Regions from separate parts of the Homo sapiens genome. Here regions 2 and 3 are each linked to region 1. The links come from fine-mapping of genetic effects on plasma protein levels. A gene starts in region 1. Each other region holds a variant in brackets. All regions are shown on one strand. Distances are from middle to middle.

The links. PIP is the posterior inclusion probability: the model's chance that the variant is causal. The UK Biobank Pharma Proteomics Project read protein levels with antibody pairs (Olink). The fine-mapping took linkage between variants from a reference panel, not from the people measured, so its PIPs are less certain.
Region 2: its variant is fine-mapped to the plasma level of the SUSD4 protein (UK Biobank, PIP above 0.99).
Region 3: its variant is fine-mapped to the plasma level of the SUSD4 protein (UK Biobank, PIP 0.98).

The regions. Positions count from the first base shown.
Region 1 is chr1:223,360,449-223,368,631 of GRCh38, forward strand. SUSD4 (sushi domain containing 4) reads right to left here and starts at 3,728. Exons shown (of 9, transcript NM_017982.4): 1 at 3,609-3,728; 2 at 2,830-3,012. The coding sequence starts at 2,977.
Region 2 is chr1:223,245,141-223,253,323 of GRCh38, forward strand. The region is part of intron 5 of SUSD4 (sushi domain containing 4); the gene reads right to left. Among named protein-coding and RNA genes, the nearest start is that of TLR5, 110 kb to the left of the region's middle. The variant C/G (reference allele first, on the strand shown) is at 3,501.
Region 3 is chr1:223,270,286-223,278,468 of GRCh38, forward strand. The region is part of intron 3 of SUSD4 (sushi domain containing 4); the gene reads right to left. Among named protein-coding and RNA genes, the nearest start is that of SUSD4, 90 kb to the right of the region's middle. The variant T/G (reference allele first, on the strand shown) is at 4,348.

The sequences.
Region 1 (8,183 bases):
CTTCCTTAACGACAAAAGACAACCTGGAGAGAGCCACCCAAACATCATCTCAGGACAAGTCAGGCTCATAAAAGCTTCCCTAGGGTTCAAAGAACTGAATCGGAGCTCTGGCTTTCTAAGACAAAGCATTTCATTTTTGATGGAGTTCCTGTTCCTACTTTTCTTTGATCATTTTCTCAATTTCTGCCTTTCTAGTTCAGGCTTTTTCTTCAATACTTGTACTGGGCACATGCTTTTTTTTTCTCCTAGCTGAGACGATTATATCTTGCCATTGCGGTGTTCCTTTTCCATTGAAAGCAATCAAAAATGAAAATCCACATTTCAGAACAGTGTCCATTAAATATACACTTTTTTGTGGATGAAAAAAAAGCACTCTCCGAGGGCTGATTTTCAGCTCTGTGTATCACCTGAAGATTAGATATTGGGTGAGACTTCTGCTCCTCACAGGCCATTTGCATTCAGTAATTGAGAATGATGGCAGAAAGTCTGGAGCAGAAGCAACTTATTTTAAGGAATGCCTTGGTCTCAAGCATGGCTAATCAAAGTGTGGTCCTTGGATCAGTGGTAACTGCTTCACCTGGGAGCTTATTAGAAATGCCGAGTCTCAGGCCCCACTCCAGACCAAATGAATCAGCATCCACCTTTTAACAAGATCCCAGGTGACTTGTATGCACATTAAAGTTTTAGAAGCACAAGTCTAGAGCTAAGGTGTATTTGCTTTTATTGCCTTATTGGAGCCTCCATGTGCATTTCTTTCCTAAAAAAGAAAATCTCTGTATAATGAACTCTATAGGACATCCCCCACCACCCTTGCTTGCCCAAACGGTTTATTCATAGAGGAACTGTGAAGTGATAAATACTCTTCCAGAAATCACACTCTCAGCCTGAAGGAGTTCAAAGTGAAACGCAGCTGATGGCTAGCTTCCTGCAGCATATGAGTGCCTAAAAAGAAAGAGCTCTGAGACTGACAGGTGACAGGCAACCCTTACTCTCATCCTCTTCTCCAAGGCTCTGGATATTTTTGCCTGGCATGATCCCCCACAGGAAGGCAGGGAAAAAAGACATGCTATAGGAACCTCATAGGTGACTGTCATAAGACCGAGGTGGCCATGATGTACACTGAGCTCTGAAATGTTGAGGAGGATGCTCTGTAAACACGACCAAGCAGAACCAAGAGCACAAAACAAATCTCAGCTGTGCTCAGACCTCACCCATCCAATAACAATAGTCAAGACAAATGTAAATGAACCTTGATTAACTAGTCTGTCATCTACATAAGAGAAATGGACCAAGAAGATGGAAAATCATGTGGACCTGGTTTGAGAGAATGAAAGCTAGAACTGGGAGGCAAAAGCAGAGAGGAGGGGAGGAAATGATCCAGATCCACGCAATACTGTTCTGCCCGTCTATTCCCACTCATATGTGAAGCAGAGCTGGTGTCCACGGCAGATTAGAGGCTGTGACCAGAGCCCTGGCAGGGCACACAGGTGCTGGCCTGGCCTCACACTTGACCTTCTCCTCCATGAAGAGGAAGCTTGCCTCAGAGAAATCTCTATAAAAAACTACAAGCATCCAAAAAGTTATTCCTTCTTAAAAAAAAAATACAAAAATAAAAATAAAAACCAATGTCCACCCAAAGCAAGTGTTTTCTCACTAATTTTGATAGATATGCACATTGCAATAAACACCTTTATACTCTGGGCATCTTTCAGATGTCTAAGTGGAATGCCTGGGTTATTGATTACTCTGTGTTAAAGCCCAACTTATTACACCTCTCCTCCACTTTTGCTAATTTTTCACTCATTTTTTTTCCATTTTCACCTTTGAATTCTCTGAAACAGCAATATTTTAAAACGCTAAAATGGTTTATTTACATCAGTCAATACTTGCTTTTCAACCAAAGATAATTTATTTATATATTAACAGTATCTCAGCTCCTTTTAACGTCCACATCAGCAAGCTCTAGAGAACGTTTGCAATGGACAGGAATGATGGACAGCAATGAGCAGTGGAGGCAGGGAGACTAGGCTCTCAAATTCAGACAGGAACTCCATCTGTCTTCCTCTACCACAACTAAAAGATACCCCTCCCCCAGAACCAAATATGTTATAGATTAGCCGCCCACGGAGGCTGAGGCTATCAATTTTATTTCAGCTAACTTCTACTTCATAGAAGAGCAACTGACTTTATTCCCTGAAATCATACCTCGATGAGCAAAGCAATCTGTCAGAGGCACACCTGAAAGAATACCTCTGCACCTCCTCCACGCCCCCAACATACACATACATGCTGCACACACAGGGGAAGGGAAAGTTAACTTTCAAATAAACCTGCCCCGCAGCCAGTCTGACCACGTTTCCAGACCCTTCACATTCTCAAAGGTGGTTCTTAAACTCTTGCTTAAATCCAGAGGCTGAAATCTGACCTCTATCTGCTGAAGGCATTGGCAAGAGGTCCACAAATACACCACTCCCCACTGCCCCCACCCCCCACCCCTCCCCCCCCCGCCCCCGCTTCCTTGGCCAAAGTGGGAATAATGGGCCAGGCTTTATTGTCTTTCCTTGGGAGAAGCCAGGCCCGGAGGCTGGTGGGAAGCTCCAGACAGAATGTGGGTGTGTGAATCTGTGCGGGCTCCACATGGGAATTTTCAGGGAACTCCAGCGGTTTCGGAGAAGGGCGGCCATAGGCTGGGACGCAGGCACCCTCGCGTTGTCAGATCCTCCTGAAGTCTGGGTGTATGGGGGAGGGGTGCAGGGCTGTCCTGGCAGCTAGGCTCTTTCTCCCCTCTGGGCCATCCCCAGGCCCTCCCACCACAGCTGGGTCACTCACCGCCCGTGAGCTGTGCAGGGCCGAAGCACAGCGCCAGCTGAAACCACAGGATCACGGCCAAGAGTCTCTGGGGGGACTGAGGTTGCTGCTGCTGCTGCTGCTGCTCTAGAAATCCATCTCCATTGCTCGGGTTCATTCCATGATACATCTTTCATCCACAGAGGGCATCCAGCTTGCAAGAGTCTGCAACCAGAAGCGGAACACCACAATAAGCCAGTCTGTCCGGGCTCGGGGGCCACGCTCCCCCTCCTCCGCTCTGGGACCCGGCGCCTCGGCTTCCCAGGCTCCATCCTGGTTCCTCCCCCGCGCGGCCCCCGCCCCCTTTCCCACGGCGAGGTCCCCCGCCTTCCCCCGAGCCGGGTGCACTGAGTAACAGCCGCCGTGGGATGCTGCGCGTGCTGGGGGATGGAGGACAGGAGGGAGGGCAGGGGTTAGCGCACATTGGCTCCGCGCCGGTCCCCGGGATTCAGCAGCTGTGCCCACCACAGGAAAGTCTAGAGCCTCCCCGCGTCTCGGGGCCGCGAAGACACTTTTCCCTGGGCCTATACATTTCACTCTGGGAATCTCACAATGTGGCACCGTCTCCCCCAGCTACTTCTCTGGTTTTCCTCGGGATTGGGATCGATCCTACTGCCCCAGTCCCCAGTGAGATTTCTCTGCGCTGTCAAAAAAAAAAAAAAAATTCTCCCTTGGGGAGCTGCACCAGGCACCAACTCCCCCTCCCCGGCCTGCGCGCGCCTCCTCGGAATGGAAGACCCTTCCGGGACTGTCGGTCTTACCTGTGGGTCTCATGCATGCAGCTTCCTTCCCTCCTCCGCCTCCTCCCCCCGCCAGTCTAACCCGCATCTGTGCGCGACCTCTGCTGCCGCCGCTGCGCGAGCGAGCGAGACGGAAGCTTCGGCGGCGGCGCTCGGCTCCAGCTCCCCCGCCCGCGCGCTCCCTCCCCAGGCGCCCCCGAGCGGGCGGGTGTTGGGGGAGGACGGGAGCCCGGCCGCGCGCCCCCGCGGAGGCGCCCGCGCGCCCGCTACCTGAACTCGCGAGCGCGCGGCGGCGGCGGCGCGGAGAGAGGGAGTGGGTGGGGACGGGGTGAGTGGGGGGGCGGGGACGGGGCGAGGGGTGCGCGGGCGCGCGAGCACGCGCCTCTGCCAACCCAGCCGGCGCCGCGGCGTGGCCGGAGACTGGCGAGGGCGGGGACGGGGAAAGGGGCCCGCCGCCGCGACCAATGGGAAGCCCGCGCGCCTGCACCTGTCGGGGCGCGAGGCGCCGGCGGCCGGTCTTGCACACGCACGCAGCTCGGTCGCCCCTTCCCCGGCGCTGGACTGCAGCCCCTGCCCCGGCTGCGCGCCAGCTCAGGTGCCCGCCCCGGCCTCCGCGCGGCCTCTGGTGCCCCCAGCCCGCGGCGCGGCGCGGGAGAGCGCTCCGCCCTAGAACTACCGCCGCGGCGGTGGCTGCAGACCCGGGGCGAGTGCGCGGCCGGCAGCTCCCAACCCCAGAACTCTCGCCACAGACCCGGTTAACTTGAGCACCGCCAATTGCCCGAGTCTCTTAATTTCCCGCGTTAACCCCTCCCCGCTCCCATCTCCGCCGAAGCTCTGCGCGTCCCCAGGGAGCCCGAAGGACCATCTGAGGCGGCTGAGAGACACTCTCCCCCTCCCCCACACCCTTGGTATTTTCCCTCTGCCAGCCGCAGGTGTTGCGAGTGAGGACCCCTGTCCGGTCTTGGAGATGCGCGGGGCCCTCGGAGCCTTGGCCTGGGAGGCGCTCCCGGGGGCGGGGAGGCGGGGGTAGCGGGTGATTGGTGACACGCAGAAGGTTGGGTACCTGGAGGAGGGGAGGCTTCCGGGGTCGTAGATGGGAAGCCAAGGGGGTCGGTGGTAATTGCCCTCCCAGCCCCAAGTGGAGAGAGTTGGCCTGGTCGGTCCCCTGTCTCTGCGCCGATTCTGGTGTCGGAGCTCAGCCCGCAGTGGTTGCAGCTCTCACTCGCCGCCGGCTCTGATCGCCCGCGGTCGGTTTCAAGATAGGGAAGCCCACATTCCAGCCACAGTGATTAAGAGGTGTCAGCTAATGAGGTGGCGTCCACCGGCAGCGCTTTAGAGCCAGTGACACTCCATGATTCTGTAGCAATTTGTGGATATGAAAACTATGTTCCTGATACAGCTACTAAATCATCCTTTGCTTCTATCGACTTTCCCAAAATCTCACATACTGATGGTAGTTGGGAAATTACAGCTTTTATACTGTGTCAGCTCTTACTGGGAGTAATTTTAACACATTCTTTCAGGATAGATTAGCTTTTAGTAGATAAGTCAAGCTCCGTTATTTTGTTTTTTGCTTTTGCGTGTGTGTGAAATTGAGATGGCAGCTTTGCACAAAATAAACAAGATGTTGACTAGCACAAGTCCAGTTTTGCTACAGCTTGTACTTTGGGACCCCAAAATCTTAGTAGGGGACCATCCACCTTCCCAAGGTCCTGTGACTGTCCTCTACAGTTTGTATATTTATTCCATTTTTCTTTCTTAGTAAATTTTCTAAATCTTTTTAAATATCCACCAAATCAACAACGGTCAGAAATATTTGTTGACCATGCACATGTTCTTAACAATTATAAGAGATATATCTAAGTGCCATTGAAATCTGTTCTTTGGCTGGAGTACAATCTAATTTTAACAGAGAATGTTGGGACTGAAAGGAACATTCAAGTTTATCTGATCCAAACATGGGATCTATGCTTGAGTTTCCTCTCTGACATTTCTAATAAGTGGTCATTCAGCCTCACTGAATACTCATCAAGGTAGCCTGTTTATATTTGCCAGCAGGTCTCTTAGAAAAGTCTTTCTTATATTGAACTGAAATCTACTTCCCTGAAACCTTTACCCACTGATTCTGGCTCTCCTCTGTGGGCCCACGCAGCTAAATAGAATTCCTCTTTCTTAAGAGAGCATCTCATGGCTTTGGAGATGGCTTCGTGTTCCCTTGAGTCTTCTCTTCTCTGGGTCACGCATAGCCATTTCCTTCAGTGCGACGATTCCCAGACTTTTCACCAGCCTGTGGCCTTTCTCTGACCCAGTTTCTCAATGATATCCACCCCCAGCAATCAAAGTTTGTTTCCAGAAAGAGGCCCTACTTTCCCTCTGTGGGTTCTGACCAGTACAGGCCGGTACTGTTGCTTTCTGTATTTTAAACAACTTGCTTCTATTAATTCAGCTGAAGAAGACAAGCATTTGGAGGGCAACTACAGCATAACATATTGTTATTATTATTATTATTTTTAATTATTGTTATACTTTAAGTTTTAGGGTACACGTGCACAATGTGCACGTTAGTTACATATGTATACACGTGCCATGCTGGTGCGCTACACCAACTCGTCATCTAGCATTAGGTATATCTCCCAATGCTATCTCTCCCCGCCCCCCACCCCACAACAGTCCCCAGAGTGTGATGTTCCCCTTCCTGTGTCCATGTGTTCTCATTGTTCAATTCCCACCTATGAGTGAGAATATGCAGTGTTTGGTTTTTTGTTCTTGCGATAGTTTACTGAGAATGATGATTTCCAATTTCATCCATGTCCCTACAAAGGACGTGAACTCATCATTTTTTATGGCTGCATAGTATTCCATGGTGTATATGTGCCACATTTTCTTAATCAAGTCTATCATTGTTGGACATTTGGGTTGGTTCCAAGTCTTTGCTATTGTGAATAGTGCCGCAATAAACATACGTGTGCATGTGTCTTTATAGCAGCATGATTTATAGTCCTTTGGGTATATACCCAGTAGTGGGATGGCTGGGTCAAATGGTATTTCTAGTTCTAGATCCCTGAGGAACCACCACACTGCCTTCCACAATGGTTGAACGGGTTTACAGTCCCACCAACAGTGTAAAAGTGTTCCTATTTCTCCACATCCTCTCCAGCACCTGTTGTTTCCTGACTTTTTAATGATTGCCATTCTAACTAGTGTGAGATGGTATCTCATTGTGGTTTTGATTTGCAATTCTCTGATGGCCAGTGATGGTGAGCATTTTTTCATGTGTTTTTTGGCTGCATAAATGTCTTCTTTTGAGAAGTGTCTGTTCATGTCCTTTGCCCACTTTTTGATGGGGTTGTTTGTTTTTTTCTTGTAAATTTGTTGGAGTTCATTGTAGATTCTGGATATTAGCCCTTTGTCAGATGAGTAGGTTGTGGAAATTTTCTCCCATTTTGTGGGTTGCCTGTTCACTCTGATGGTAGTTTCTTTTGCTGTGCAGAAGCTCTTTAGTTTAATTAGATCCCATTTGTCAATTTTGGCTTTTGTTGCCATTGCTTTTGGTGTTTTAGACATGAAGTCCTTGCCCATGCCTATGTCCTGAATGGTAATGCCTAGGTTTTCTTCTAGGGTTTTGATGGTTTTAGGTCTAACATTTAAGTCTTTAATCCATCTTGAATTGATTTTTGTATAAGGTGTAAGGAAGGGATCCAGTTTCAGCTTTCTACATATGGCTAGCCAGTTTTCCCAGCACCATTTATTAAATAGGGAATCCTTTCCCCATTGCTTGTTTTTCTCAGGTTTGTCAAAGATCAGATAGTTGTAGATACGCAGCGTTATTTCTGAGGGCTCTGTTCTGTTCCATTGATCTATATCTCTGTTTTGGTACCAGTACCGTGCTGTTTTGGTTACTGTAGCCTTGTAGTATAGTTTGAAGTCAGGTAGTGTGATGCCTCCAGCTTTGTTCTTTTGGCTTAGGATTGACTTGGCGATGCGGGCTCTTTTTTGGTTTCATATGAACTTTAAAGTAGTTTTTTCCAATTCTGTGAAGAAAGTCATTGGTAGCTTGATGGGGATGGCATTGAATCTATAAATTACCTTGGGCAGTATGGCCATTTTCATGATATTGATTCTTCCTACCCATGAGCATGGAATGTTCTTCCATTTGTTTGTATCCTCTTTTATTTCATTGAGCAGTGGTTTGTAGTTCTCCTTGAAGAGGTCCTTCACATCCCTTGTGAGGTGGATTCCTAGGTATTTTATTCTCTTTGAAGCAATTGTGAATGGGAGTTCACTCATGATTTGGCCCTCTGTTTGTCTGTTATTGGTGTATAAGAATGCTTGTGATTTTTATACATTGATTTTGTATCCTGAGACTTTGCTGAAGTTGCTTATCAGCTTAAGGAGATTTTGGGCTGAGACAATGGGGTTTTCTAGGTATACAATCATGTCGTCTGCAAACGGGGACAATTTGACTTCCTCTTTTCCTAATTGAATACCCTTTATTTCCTTCTCCTACCTAATTGCCCTGGCCAGAACTTCCAAAACTATGTTGAATAGGAGTGGTGAGAAAGGGCATCCCTGTCTTGTGCCAGTTTTCAAAGGGAA
Region 2 (8,183 bases), 120 kb before region 1:
ATAGATACTTTCAATATCTAAATTGCATTTAAATAATGCAATTTGACTACAGTTGAATCTGATAGTTAAAAATGGGACTTGTATTATGTGTTTGTCTTTTTATTTTATCTAGTATCTGTTTTTATTGTGTATTATTGGTCTGCAACGTATTAGAAAACAGTAACCAAATCACTGGTCCCTTCACTACAGAGAGATGAGAGGCCCTAATCCGATCATAAATGCATACAGGAATGCACGATGCATAAAAACTAGGAAGGACTCGGTCCAGGAAGTGCTGGAGGAGGATGTGCCTGGCAGAGAGGATGGCACATGTGAAGGTGGGCTGGAGGCAGTGAAGAGAGGCCGATGGTGGCTGAGTGTGCAGGAGACAGAGGGCTACACAGCACGAGGGATGGGAGGCAGGCGGGACACTGTGTGTGCAGCTGCATGGAACCACGGCAAGTAGTTGGGATTTTATCATAGTGTGAAGGGACACTGCAAAGAGTGGGAACTGGCATATTTCTTAAAAGCTAGCTGGGTGGAGAACAGGCTGTTAGAGAGCAGGGATAGACATGGCAGGACTGCCAGGAAGTGGCTACCATGCCTGGAGAGATGATGGCGGCCTGGACCAGGACAGTGGCAGCCAATGTGGTGGGAAGAAGAGTGACTTGAATGTTATTCCTCTGTTTCTAAATAGGGCTTGGTGATTAGGCGGCTAGGAGAAAAAGAAGGATAACTCCCAGATTTCTGACCTGGCTCGATTGTGGTACTACTGACTATGCTAGGTTTTTGTTGGGTTTATTTGTTTCATGGCAAGGGAGTGGTACAGAGCTTGGTTTTGCACTGGTCGGGTTTGAGCTTCCAGTGGGAAAGTCATCCAGGTCAGTTAGGCAGCCAGAGAAAGAGTCTGGGATAAATGCAGAACTCAGGAATCATGAGCATAGAAATAATCTTTACAGCCACGGGACTGCACGCACTCACATAAGGGGAGAGGGCAGACAGAAAAGGGAACGGGACCCAGTCCAAATGCTGAGACACCCTACAGGGACGAAAAAGATGGCAGAGGAGACTAGGGCGCATCATGGAAGCCGCGAGGGGAGACTGTCCCAAGGAAGAGGGAGCAGCTCCTCACAAGCTGAGAAGGATGGAAAAAGAAGAGTGGCCATTGGATTTGGCCAAATGGGAGTCAGTAGAGACCCTAAGAAAAGCAGCTTTGATACAGTGGCAGAGGGGAAGCCATTCTGCAGTGAGTTGGGGAGTAAAAGGGGATGGAAACCTCAGGTGACTCTTTAGAGAAGTTTGCTGCAGGGAAGCAGTAAAGCAGAGGCCGGAGGGTCCAGGGAGAGCCCCGCCCCCACCCCAGAGCTCTTGATCTTGTTAAGACGTTGGCAGGAGTGGTTCAACACAGGGTACAAGGTTGGTAATCCAGGCAGGAGGGCAGTCATTCAGGAGGAGAAAGATGTGATCTTCCACATGAGTGGAAGGAGGGGCTGGCCTCTGACAGGCGTAGGAGGGGCTGGAGGGAAGCATGAGTGCTGGACACAGGCCTCAGCAGATCGGTGGCCAGGGTGGTGGAGATGTGAGTAAGCTGCCCTCTGAAGGCTCCCCTTTTCCGAATGAAGTGTGAGGCAAGGCCACCACTCAGAGGTGGGAGGGGGGCTGAGATGAGAACTATGTATCACTTATCACAGTCCTTAACCAATTTATATGTTTCATTACATGCAAAATAATAAAATGAGGCTTAAAACCAGTGTGTGCCTTGCAACTATCCATACAAATAACTCCAGGGCATGGGGCAGGGGAAGCAGAAGAATGTAGAATATTTTAACTTACTAAATGAATATTTAGAATGTACAATGAATGAATACTAATGTAGTATTATAGAATATTTTAACCTACTAAATCCTTCTGAGCCACTGAGCCCAGGTGCTTTGACTGAGTATTTTCATTCTTACTAGTTCCAAAGGTCCATACAGCCCCCCGGGTGTTCTTCATGTAGGAAAGACTTGCTCCTTTAGTCTGTGCATTCACATCTACCCCACACAGCTCGTGGGAGAGGCTGCTGGTTGCTCACCATAACCCATGTTCCACGAGCACCCAGCTGGTCCACATTGCCCACTGTCCCTTGTTTCTCTAAGTTCTAGCCAATGGAATATGAAGAGAAATGATAACTACTACTTTCACGCTTGATCCATGAAGCCTTCCCATGCTTCTCTGGCTGCCTAGAATGGAAATGATCTCCTAGGGGACCTCAGAAGCCCACCCTGAAGCCAGCAGAGCTTCCACTGGCCCCTGAATGACTGGGTGGAGAAGAGGCACTGGCGGATCAATATTCACTCAATGCCACTAGGTGAAAATAAACTTCTATTTTGTTTGAGCCATCATCCCTTTTTGGTAACCTTCTTACAGCAGCGGTCTACCATATACAGTTGGTATAAGGAAGAAATAACAGATGTGAATCTGCTTTGTGAAACAGCAGAACATGCATGCTCCAGATGTTTGTTGCTATTATTACTGTCACACCTCTTTCTGCCATGTTAGTGCTGCATTTGAAGAGTGTAATAATGAGTTAAGCCACTGGTTCCTCAACCCTGGCTGCACAGAATCACCTGGGGAGCTTTGCCTAATTGGTCTGGAGGGGGTCCTGGGCTTGGATGGGTCTTAAAGCCCTGGGGTGATTCTAACGGGTAGACAAAGTTGAGAAGCACCGTCCCCACAGTTGCAATGGTCAGGAGACCCCCTCCATCCCCTACGTGCTAAGGATGGATGGTTTACAACATTCAGTGGAGCCAGTATGCAAATTAAATTGTCATGGTATCTGGTCTGGGTCTTCACCTTTCACCGGACTCTTGCTATATGAATTGCAGTCCATGGACTGTCCATTTTGGGATCAACTAAGTGCTTATTAGAAATTGGTACTCTCTAGCAACACCTACTCAATCAGAAACTTTATTTCAGCAAGATTCCCAGGTGATTCACATGCACAGTGCAGTTTGGGAAGTGAAGTGCTGTTCCAGATCATGAGGAAACTCTGTAGCTGAGCTCAGTAGTAAAGCTGACTCTTAATGCTACGGTCTCAAGTCTCAAGTTGGCCTTGAGGAGCGTGGAGAAGTGGCAGGAAAGCCAGTGAGCCTGTATACTGAGTGCAAAGGCATCGCATCAAGACAGCCCAGCATGTTGTCTATGTGGCTCTGAGAGGGAACAGGAAGACAGGGACTCTGCTCCCATATTGTACAGAACCACCCAACCTCTGCCTGCAGGAGTTCTGCTGAATTCTAATCATCAAAACTGCCATTGCACCAGCCATCCCCAGTCTGATCTAAATTTGGGTAATGATTCCAGGAAGTTGCACGGAACCCTCTGTACCAAAGTCCTGGCCATCTCCATGACTACGTCTGAAACTTTGCTTTTAGCTCAGGGAAAATCAATAAACATTATACAGCACATTACATTTTCCACTTGTGTTTTGTTGTAACAACACAGAAGGCCAACACATGTGTCTACTGAAGGAAGCCAATGAT[C/G]ATGAGGCTGGGGCTTTGCTTGTTTGTGAGCAGGATGGAGCATGGTGTTTACCTACTCAGAGATGTGCTGACAGATCAAATTTAAGATCAATAGTACCCAGCAGCGCTGAGGGAGGGGCTCTCACCTGCTTTCCATCTCTGAGTCACTACGTTAGGATGTCCCTGAAGGAATACAAAATGCATGTGATGACAACTGTGAAACTTCACTGAAAAAAAAAAATGGCTTCACATAAGAAATCTGAAGTGTGCCTAGTTTCGAAGCCACAAGGAAGCCACAGAGGAGCACACAGGTGAGGGAGCAGGTGCAAACCCGTGATTTCCTCTGACAGCAGCGGGGAATGGCTGGTGCTGAAATCAAAAGCTGACACGTGTTTCTGTGTTCTGATGAGGTTGCTTGCTTTCTTTGCATTGATAGGAGCCACAGTGGCTACACTGAGGTCAGTCTTCACCACCACAAGGTGAAAATAAATCACAAGACATCTGTGGCGTCAGAGTGTTTTGACGTCTGTGAACATTTTCCAATACATGATCCCCCTACAGTCAGGACTCCTAAAGGTAATTGGGGCATCTGAATTTTTTGTAAGGGAAGGAAATCAGGGGCACAAGATTAAAATGGAGCGTGTGTCCCACCATGTAACCCAGGAAGCCCACAGGTAAGGGAGCATTTAGAGTGGATCATTTCTGACCCTCTCTGCAATCAGCAAACCCGTCTATTATCAGAGATGACACTGAAGTTAAATGTTGCTAGTGTATCCACATACTGGACCAAAGTGCCACACAGACACACATACATTCATGTATACAATTTTCTGAGCCTCCAGTCTTCCTCCCATAAATTTTTAGGAAAATCCTTAGTGCCTTCTCATTCTTGTCTATTAGCAAGTCCTAATAGATGAGGAAATACATAATTGAGTAGTGAGTTAAGAAGAGGAGGAAGCAATTGGTCATGCTTTGTTCCTAGCTATGCTTCAGTGTATGTGTGTATGCACTTATGGGTTCTATATTATAGTTAGTTCTATAATAAGTTTATATTATCCATAGAAAATAAACAGCCACAGTTTCCACTAGCAAAGGTAATTCTAAAGTTTACATGATAGAATTTTATCAGTATTTCTTAGTGTTCTGCAAAAAACATAAAACAAAAAATGCATGCTATTCTGTGAAAGGCACCATGCTTTTCTGACATCTGAACAAATTTAAGAAACACTGGCTTAGAAGACATGGACAGTGAAAAGAGAGGAAGAAAGGGAAAAGTCAGCTAGGAGAACAGAATAGGAGAAAGTGTGAGGGTGAGAATGTGAGAAAGGACAGGCTAAGAAGACATAAGAAAATCAGTGGATTAATGAGAGACTCTAGAGAGGCAGCTTTGCACTGCCTCTAGTGCAAAGGTGCAAGAGTGCAAAGGTGCACTTTCCTGGGTTCACATCCTGGCTCAAACACTTAGTGGCCATGACCTTGGGCATTTTACTTTCTCATCTTATTTTCATTTTCATTCATTTTACTTTCATTTCTTTCTGAGCTTTGGTTTCCATCATCTGTCAACAGAAATAGTAATACCTACATTGCAGGAAATTTATAAGAATTAGAAATAATATCCGTAAATCACCAAGCACAAAGTGCCTGGCACAAAAGGAAATGCTCAATAAAAAGAGACAGTGACTATTACTAGCTACATTACAGGCCAGTGAGATGAAATGAGAGCAGTAATGACATTTCACAAGAACGTACTATGAGGCAACATATGCACATTATGTCACTCAATCCTAACAACAATTTTGCAGAGCAGGTGTTGCTATTGCCTCATTTGCAAAGATAAGGGAATTGAGGCTGAGAAAGATGAAGTTATTTGCCCAAGGTCATCTAGCAAACTAACAGCGAGCTGGGACAGGACCTTATGTGCTGCTGACTCCAAAGCTGCCATATCTTACTGAGTCATGCCATGGGGTTTTAAGTGAACACAGGAGAAAGGGAGCATAGTGCCTCCCAACAGCCAAGTGGAAGAGCAACGATTTCATTATCTGCTAAGACATGTATTATGCACAATGGGGTTAGAGTTCGGAAAAGCCTTGAGGCCTCCAGAGCTAGAGGAAAAGAGAGCTGGAGGAACCCTGACAGATACAGGGAAGCCTCTGTTTGGCTCAGCTGGCATAAGCAGGGTGCGGTGTACCGGGCTAGAGGCAAGGTTAGCTCAGGAAGGGGCTGTGGGCAGGCCAAAGGATGCTGGCCAACTGGGGTTTGGGAAGATTCGAAGACAGCCCTTTAAACCTGGGAGCAAGAGCTAGAGGGAAGATGGAAGGGAGTTTGCTTCTTCCAAAGCTAAGGCAGGGAGAGCATGTGCAGTGGATCGAATTGGGTATCCCCCAGATTCTTACACTGAAATCCTGGTACCTGTGAATGTGGGCCTATTTGGAAATAGGGTAACTGCAGATGTAATTAAATTGAGGTCATATTATAGTAGGGTGGGCCCTTAATCCAATATGACTGTTATGTTAGTCTGTTCATTGTATTGCTATAATAGAATATCCAAGACTGGGTAATTTATAAAGAAAAAAGGTGTAATTGGCTCATGGTTCTGCAGGCTGTACCAGCATGGCTCCATCATCTGCTTCTGGCACAGGCTTCAGGAAGCTTATAATCATGGCAGAAGGCAAAGAAGAACAGGTGTGTCACATGGCAAGAGTGGGTTCCAGACATGGGAGGAAATACCACATGATTTTAAACAACCAGATTTCATGTGAACTCAGAGCAAGAACTCACTCATCACCAAGGGGATGGCACTAAGCCCTTCATGAGGGATCCACCCCCATGATCCAATCACCTCTCACCAGGCCACACCTCCAACACCGGGAATCAAATTTCAACATGAGATTTGGAGGAAATAACATCCAAAACATATCAACTTGTGTCCTTATAAGAAGAAGAGGCAACAAAGGACATGAACTCATCATTTTTTATGGCTGCATAGTATTTCATGGTGTATATGTGCCACATTTTCTTAATCCAGTCTATCATTGTTGGACATTTGGGTTGGTTCCAAGTATTTGCTATTGTGAGTAGTGCCACAATAAACATACGTGTGCATGTGTCTTTATAGCAGCATGATTTATATTCCTTTGGGTACATACCCAGTAATGGGATGGCTGGGTCAAATGGTATTTCTAGTTCTAGGTCCCTGAGGAATTGCCACACTGTCTTCCACAATGGTTGAACTAGTTTACAGTCCCACCAACAGTGTAAAAGTGTTCCTATTTCTCCACATCCTCTCCAGCACCTGTTGTTTCCTGACTTTTTAATGATCGCCATTCTAACTCAGCAAACTATTGCAAGGACAAAAAACCAAACACCGCATGTTCTCACTCACAGGTGGGAATTGAACAATGAGAACACTTGGACACAGGAAGGGGAACATCACACACCAGGGCCTGTTGTGGGGTGGGGGGAGGGGGGAGGGATAGCATTAGGAGATATACCTAATGTAAACGACGAGTTAATGGGTGCAGCACACCAACATGGCACATGTATACATATGTAACAAACCTGCACGTTGTGCACATGTACCCTAGAACTTAAAGTATAATTAAAAAAAAAAAAAAAAAATATATATATATATATATAAAAGAAGAAGAGGCGAGACACACAGAGGGAAGACGGCCATGTGAAGACACAGACATCAAGGGAGAACTCCATGTGATGACCGAGGCAGAGGCTGGAATGAAGCGGCGACAAGCCATCGAACGCCAAGGAATGAGGCAGCAGCTGAAACCAGGTTGGGGATCGTTATGCTCCAGGGACAGTAGAGTCCCCCACAGCTAACTCCAAGGGCCACAGAGTCTTTAAAAATGTCAAGCAGAATGGTAGGCAAAGGTCCCATTGGCATGCTGCTTTAGCCATGGTTGGCTATAGAATTCTTGGCTTCCCAGCTTCCTGAACAAATTAACTTTTCTTCCCAATTCAAAATAATTTCCATCAGAATAATATACTTATAGTATGAAAATACAGACTGATGTAGGCACAGGTGTTTACTTGTGATAGCTTGAACTAAGGACTAGTTTTAAAATATGAATTTCCATATAATTGGCTTTTTTTTTTAAACTCCAGTCATGCTTCCCCTTCTTAAGGCCTGGACCAATGAAATCCCTTCCTAGGAATGGAGAAGACGGGGTCAGAAAATGCATTAGGGGCCGGGCGCAGAGGCTCATGTCTGTAATTCCAGCACTTTGGGAGGCCAAGGCCTGAGGTCAGGAATTTGAGACCAGCCTGGCCAACATGGTAAAAAACCCCATCTCTATTAAAAACACAAAATTAGCCAGGTATGGCAGTGCAGCCTGTAGTACCAGCTAGTTGGGAGGCTGAGACAGGAGAATCGCTTGAACCTGAGAGGCGGAGGTTGCAGTGAGCCGAGATTGCACAATTGCACTCCAGCCTGGGTGAGACAGAGTGAGGCTCCGTTTCCAAAAAAAAAAAAGAAAAAGAAAAAGAAAATTCATTAGGTTGTCATCCATCAAAGAACAAACTGGCCAGAATGTAAACAAAGTCCTGGACTTTTCTTCAGAAGCCACAAGAAAAAAAATGTGCCATGGGATGAAGGCTCTGTCCTCTCTGCACACTCTAACTTTAGAGGATGTGGGCACAGTTCGGAGTCAGGCATTATCTTTTTACAGAACGCAAGCCAAAAACAACAAA
Region 3 (8,183 bases), 90 kb before region 1:
ACTTCCTCTGACCCTCCCACCATGCTTCTGACCTGCGCACACACCTGGCGAAAGAGTGCCGAAAGGAGTTCTGTGAACCTCTGCCCAAGCAAGCTGTGAGGGCACAGCCCTCTGGAGCACGGCTAACAGGCTTGGGGCACAGCCCTGCAGCTCAGCCTTCCCTGAGGACACCTGTCATCAGGTCTTCCCTTTGCCCATGATTTCAACAAAGAGAGTCTGGGGTGAAGAACTGTGTTCTGGCTTTGGTTTTACCTTTCATATTTATGTTTCAGGCCGCGAAAAGGGGTTTTCTTTTCCTTTTTGAGACAGAGTCTCACTCTGTCACCCAGGCTGGAGTGCAGTGGCATAATCTCAGCTCACTGCAACCTCCACCTCGCAGGTCCAAGAAATTATTCTGCCTCAGCCTCCCGAGCAGCTGGGACTACAGGTGCATGCCACTGTGCCCAGCTAATTTTGTATTTTTAGTAGAGATGGAGTTTCACCATATCAGCCAGGATGTTCTCGAACTCCTGACCTCATGATCCCTTGGCATCCCAACGTGCTGGGATTACAGGGGTAAGCCACCACGCCCAGCCTGAAAAGGGGTTTTCTAACTGTTCATGTTTAACAAACAGTTTTCCTGCTAGCATAGTTGAGTTCCCCAGAATCAACCCCAATCCCAGAATAATCCTAACTGGGGTCACAAGATCATTGACAATTCTTTGCACACTGCTGCTGCCTTAATAGAAAATGTGAATTACGTTTTTTCAATCGCACTCTACAGAAATTATTCACAGCAAATAAAAACACATTTATCAAGGCATCCGTCTGTAAAATCTTGGCTGTAAATAGGTACTGCGGCAGTAATTTACACATTGAAACAACTATTTTCATGATTGATTTAAAACTTGTTCAGCAATTAGCTGGTATACTCAGGAGGTGACCAGCTATAGAGAATAAAGTCAATGGATAGAAGCGTCCCTTTGGGCATTATGGACACGTGGACATTGGCTGGCTGGGAGCAGAAGCACCCAAGCCTTGTTTCTAAGAGTGATTTCTCAGCATAGTGTTGTGTAATGTAGAACGCTTTCAACTTCTAGTTAGAGCTAAAGTTTCCCCAAACATGGCATGGGGACTATTGCAGAATATAAGACACAGGGTTAGAGGGAATTCACAGCTTCCTGAATCCCAGTGATGATGTGCCCTCCTGAAAGAAGAGTCACCATAGGGAGTGATGCCAGGCCAATTTACTATGTGGGAGGAGCCACATATCAACTAGGGAGTAAGAAGTAGGGTCCAAATCCCAACAAGGGGAAGAGGCCAGGAGGGGCAGTGCCCTAGGAATGAGTACAAAACAAACACAGATCAGCTCTATCAAAAAAGTCAACCTTGACAGAGAAAACATTAACCAGAGCCTTTATGATTTCTTTACCCACAAAGTCTGGCATCTGATCCTCCCCCTAAAGGAGGGTGAAGTAGGAAGAAGGTATCTAGAAAAAAGTATGTGCCCAGTGAGTTCTCTGTAGTAGTGAAAAACCATGGACCTTCTTTCCACAGAAAAAAAGAATCTAGGATCTTTAGTGTCTGACAGTAAATGTCTAATATCCATCAATTCTGAAGTCTCAAACAGAAATAACATAATTTTCTATAGCATAAACTAATCTAGTCAATAGAAAGAATTTTGAAGGCAGGTGGCTCACCCCTATAATCCCAACACTTTGGGAGGCCGAGGTGGGTGGATCACCTGAGGTCAGGAGTTTGAGACCAGCCTGGCCAACATGGTGAAACCCCGTCTCTACTAAAAATATAAAACTTAGCCAGGCGTGGTGGCACATGCCTATAATCCCAGCTACTCGGGAGGCTGAGGCAGGAGAATCGCTTGAACCTGGGAGGTGGGGGTTGCAGTGAGCCAAGATCACACCACTGCACTCTACAAAAATATTCATCAAAATCTGCTTCTGTCCTATTGAATCTGGTCAACAATTAGAACTTACGTGTATGAGGCATAAATAGGCCATTCAGGGTGTAACTTGAAGGATATCAAAGCCTTCCATTCTGGAAATCATCTTTCACCAGCCCAACACTGTCATTATTTCTATATCCTGCTTCTGGTATCAATGGGGATTCAATATAGTGAATAAATAAAAGAAGGAGTAAAAGATCCTAAGGCAGCATTGCATATTTATACCCAAGTACAAATTAATTTATCAGATTAGTTAGCAGAGAGCAGCGCCTAAGGGATGGAGCAGAAATAGTAACAGTAAAAGAAATCTTAAAGAAAATGTGCCATACATAGGATTTACTGTTCTTTAAAAGTTAGTTATACTTGAAAATGAATCCAATTCCTTCAACACACCAAGTTTTGACATTAATACTCCCCCAAAACTGTTCCCAGGAACATGAATACATAATACACGCTCAAGAGATTCACAATCCACAGAGTAGATTAAAGGCTCGAACGGTCTTACTGTAAAGAATTCTACTTAATTTTGTTTAAACCAGCATTTGTCAAGCTTGTTTATTCATCCAGCTGTTCATTCATCCATTTTATGAATTACAGAGCACTCACTCTAGGCTCAGGGTGTCCTGGGTGCTGGGGATAAAGAGTCAAGGGCCTTACTCTTACAGCACTTGCATGGGAGAAGACTGCAAATGGGCAAATTAACAGCTAAAGGTGCTAGAAAGTAGCAGGCAACACTCACTGCCACGATGAACACATAGCAAGGTGACATGATAGGGACTGACTCAGGAACTCTTTTAATTTGGGTAGATAGGAAAGGGGCCCCTGAGGAAATGACATTTATTAAGCTGAGATCTGAATGACAAGAACAATTTAATTATGTATGGGTCTTGGAGAAGAACATGTTAGGCAGTGGCAACAGCTAGTGCAAAGGCCAGGAAAGAGCTTGGTGTCCTTAAAAACACTAAAGAAGACCTGTGTATTTGGAATATAGTGACCAAGAAGGGGAGGGACAGGCCAGATCATGCAGGGCTTTGTAGATTAGGGCAGGGAATTATTTTAGTGTGATAGGGAGTTACTGGGGTTTGTTAAGCATGGGCCAAGGCATGATCTGATTTATATCCTCAAAGGGTTTCCCATATGTACAGTAAAGGATTAACTTACCCAAGGAGAGGTTTAGGCATTTGCCCTCAGCTCCTGAGAGGTAACCTTTAGCCCCTGGAATGTCTGGCTTGAGATGAGTGTCTTTGTTTGTCTGGGGGCTCTGGGCCACGCTAGACAGATTATGCCAACAGTATGATGTATGGCAGGGGCCTTCGCCATGCCATCTGGTCCATGCTAACATGGATTTTAGTCCATGCTAACATGTGATTTAAGCTTTGGGTCATGGGCCATGCAGTATCGGGTCAACTTCTGGAGGGAGAGGGAACTAAGAAGATCAGCCACACTGTGGTCAGCCATGCCCACGTGACTAAGCCCTGATTAAAACTCTGGACACTAAAGCTTGGTGAGTTTCCCTGGTTGTCAACACTTCGTGTATATTGTCATACATTGTTGCTGGAAAAAAGAGGTGTTGTCCATATAGCCCCACTGGAAGACAACAACTGAAAGCTCATGTCTGGTGACTCCTGAACCCTGCCCTACGCACCTCTTCCCTTGGCTGATTTAATCTATGTGCTTTCATTGTAAAAAGCCTTAGCCATGAGTAGAATAGTTTTCCTGAGTTCTGTGAGTCTGAGTTCCTGAGTCCTAGTGAATTTTTGAACCTGATGGTGGTCTCAGGGAGCCCAGATTTATAGCTGGTATCACAAGTGAGGGGGGTCTTGGGGACTCTGAACTTAGTACCACAGAATGCTTTTTTCACTTACTATCCACTAACATCCCTCAGGAGCACTGTTCCATATCAGTGCCATTCCACCCTTCTGCTGTTCTAAAGAACTGTCATTCCAGCACAGCTCAGAGCACACTGTCCCAACCACCACAATTTACTCAGGATCGGGCTGAAGAAGCTGAATGAAACCAACTGAGACGAATGATTTGACCACCAGCAATTAACGAAAGGCAGAGAAAACGAGGGGCAAAAATCAATGCTCTTCAGAGATGACTGGAGAGAGAGGATGCTTCATAGAACAGGAGGCACCACCATGTGGGATAGTTTTGCTTTGTGAGCAGGGCTGGTCCAGGTTGTTTCTTTCATATTTAAAGGACACTGACTCTTTGAAACCTGAAGAAGAACTAGAACCAGACACTTAAGACCTTTTGGCTTGCAGCTGAAGGTAGTTAGGCCCTGGCTTAAACTCACTGAGAAAAAGCCCCGTGAAAAACAGTTGGTCAAAGAAAAGTTATTATAATAAGCATGCTTCTTGTACTTAGTGTCTTTGTCTGGTGCATAGATTGGAATATTTTAT[T/G]TATTTGTGGTTGACAAAGGCAATTAGTAGATTCGTATTTCATTATTTAAAACATTCATTTCTATATTTAACGCATTGAGGGCAATTATTTGTGGGTTCTTAGCTATTCACTTGGAGGGACTGAGACTGCTACACATTCTTCTAAGCACACGTGGAACATTTACAAAAAATGACCATACCTGGGCAATAAAGAAAGTCTCAAAAAAATTTCAAAACAACAAAATCATAGAGCTCTTTTTTTTCTGGCCACAATGAAATAAAGATAGAAATGAATAGTTAGAAAATCTCCATATTTTGGGAAACTGAGTAGTACCTTTCTAAACAACCTATGAGTCCAAAAATACTGACTGTTCAGTGCTGTGTACACTGCTATATGTATTTTATTTCATATATTTTTTAAAAGTTAAAACAACAACAATAGAATTAATCCAGAAAGAAGAACAAGGACATCACTGCCTATGTAGCTGTCTTTCCCAGTTCATCTGGAGCCTCTGGGCCTGGCAAGTAGAGAGTGCTTAACGGAATTCTGGGGAGTGAACGACTAAACATATTGGGGGTGGTGCTGAAATTCTCAAAAGCATAAAACCTCAAATATTTGCCAGCAAATTTTCAGAAGACAATTTGACCTCTGAATGTAGGTTATGTAGGTTGTTGGAAAAACTGGGTTTGATTCAGAGTTTTGTCCTAGAAGGCAAATCTAACCTGATTTCTTGCTTTTCTCTTAATAAACCCAATTTTAATTATTTTATCTTTAAAGAAACTTTAAGGTCACTTTCCACCTTCTGGAAAGTTCAACAACAAGGAAGTGACAGAAAGCACTTTAAGGCCAGAGGTGAACTCACAAGAAAAATAAAAGAAGGCATGTCAAATGCCCTTCTCATGGGCTGATGACTTCCAGAGGTTCTACCCCATGTCTCATGCTCTGCTCATAGAGTGCACATGGTAAGCATCTCAAGGAATCCTCTGAGGCTCCACAACATGAGAATCACCTGGAAATGCCTGGTAAATTCCGATTCTTTGTTGCATACAAGCATCTGAGCTTGGGGCCTGGAAATGTGCCTTTTTTTATGGCTCCCAGCCCCCGCCCCCGGCAATTACCATGAAGTCAAACACTGAGAACCACCATGTGATGGGCTATGCAAGGTCAGTCTGCGTGACTGAATAGACTGAAGAATAGCAATCAAAACTCAAAGGCTGGCTTGGAATTTAACAAGCGCTGGCCCATCTCTTAGCAGGTGTCTCAGACAAATGTAATAAAGAAAAACAGAACCTAATCCGCGCAAGCTGGGGCACCAAGGCACACCGAGGCCTCACACTCTTGCAGACCCAGCATGGGGTGCCAAGGAGATCTGAATCAGTAATAGGACTCACAGGATGCTGCCTGAAAGCCTCGGTCAGCCCCCAAACTGCTCAAAGACTGGCATGAGAGAAGATGAATTTCATCTGCAGTGGGTTTGGAAGGACCCGAGTGGGGGTAGGTCTGCATTTTTCATAAGTAGCCAACATAATTCTGGATAGTTTCAGTTGCAAGCTTGTGAAAAACTGCTTTCTGGGGAAATCCCCCCAAGTCAGTTTGGTGTTCAGGGTTGCTAACAGTCACTGTGCGACCTTTATACAGGCTCTGACAAGGATCTGTGTATGTGCTGATGATGTTGTTGTTCTCCATTTGCCTGACAATTCTGGGACTTTGAGCAACTCCCTACCTCCACAGCCCCTGTACAGAAAGAGTGAGGTCTCAGCACTCACGTGTGCAAGACCGCATGAGGCAGCTGGTTCAGGAGTAACAGCTGTCAAGATTTGCACTTACTGGGGGCTTGGTTGCACAGGCTTGAGAACCCTTGTCTGTGGTGGTCCACCTGTCATCTTGCAACCATCATAACTGATCACTTCTGTCACTTATCTTTGCAGGATTTGCCTCGACCTGACCTGATATTATTTCCTATGGATTTTCTTTCCCTTTCAAGTCTGGCCACATTTAAGTTAAATAAATATTTTAGAAAACAAAAACTAAACTCACATGGAAGCCACAAGGGAGCAAGTACAGGATAGCAGTGGCTTCTGTTAACAGCAGCATAAATAAGAAATGACAGTGGTCCTGGGGACAGGTAGAAGCATCCCTCTGCTCCTTCCCTTCTTAGGAGATGGAAAATGAGGACAGAATATCTTGGGGGAAGACATGCAAATACTTGCCCTTGTGGGCACAGGCTGTCATTTCTGATAATCCACATCTAAGGCAATAAGAAAGAAATTTTAGATGATAGAGAATGCACATGAGAAAAAAAAAATCCCAAATAAAATATTTTTAAAGCATCCATCTGTTTTGATGAAGCCTCTGGAGCTAGAAGACAGCTCACTTAACATATAAGTAACTGGAAACATGAGTATGACCACCCCGCTTTTGAAAAATGCCTGCACCCCACAGTTTCAATGAATAAAGGAGTTATCTGCCAATTTTACTGCCAGCTTTAGCTTATGAGTTGAGCTGAATCTTTTAATTAAAAATTTATAACGTAATAATAATACTTAAACTCATATTGCACCTTTTCCCCAGGAAGCTCAAAGAACCTTCTTAACATCAAATTATTCATCTTTTATAGCAATCCCGGTCAGGTCTATGGGAGCCAAAATATTTTAGCGAGTACTTAAAACTAATGCTTGATGAATGGATGATATTTTTTTTTTTTCCTTTTTGCACTCTGCAAGGAACCGAGACAAGGTTAAGCATGGAGACAGAGCAAACTGGAGCTGTGGCAGGAACAGCTCCTCCTCCTGTGCTCTATGCCACCTTTAGCCACAATCAGGTAACCAGGGACCCTGGGACAAAAAGCACAGGTGGAAGGGATCCCTGGCTGCACACTGAAATTACCTTGGATCCCTTGAAAAGAGGTCCCTGGGTGTGCCCAGGCATAGGTTGAAATACCTATGCCTGGGCTCCCACTACCCAGAACAATTAAAATAGAGTCACTTGAAGTGGGTCTCAGGCACTTCTATTTTTAAAAGTTCTGCAAGTGATCCTGACAGGCAGCCTGGGTTGCACACCACCAGGATATAGAAAGAGCACTGGACAAGGAGTCAAGACACTGGTCTAATTCCCAGCTTTCCTGCTGTGTGACTTCTATAAGTCACTAAAGCTCTTATATGGTTCAGTGTCTCCATTTGGAAAATGACAACACTGACATTTCTGATTCTAAGAATTAAACATCTCTAAGGATCTTTGTCGAACACTAGAGAAAATTATGTTATTCTCCCTTCTTACAAAGCAATATCAGACCATATCCCTAAATTAGTGAGTCTCAAACATTTTTATGTGTAAGAATCAGCTGGGAGATTTTTTTTTAAATGCAGATTCCTTGGCCCCACCCTTAGCATTCTAATGCAGGAGGTCTGAATATGTACTTTTCCTAAGTTCTGATGCAGGTAGTCCTTGGCACATACTTTAAGAACCAGTCCCGAGTTCCAAGATGGCTGAATAGGAACAGCTCCGGTCTATGGTTCCCAGCATGAGCGACGCAGAAGACAGAAGATTTCTGCATTTCCATCTGAGGTACCAGGTTCATCACACTGGGGCTTGTCAGACAGTGGGGGTAGGACAGTGGGTGCAGCCCACCGAGTGTGAGCCAAAGCAGGGCGAGGCATCACCTCACCCAGGAAGCACAAGGGGTCAGGGAATTCCCTTTCCTAGCAAAGGGGAGGGGTGACAGATGGCACCTGGAAAATTGGGTCACTCCCATCCTAATACTGCGCTTCTCAAACGGTCTTAGCAAACGGCACACCAGGAGATTATATCCCACGCATGACTGGGAGGGTCCCACACCCACAGAGCCTTGCTCGTTGCT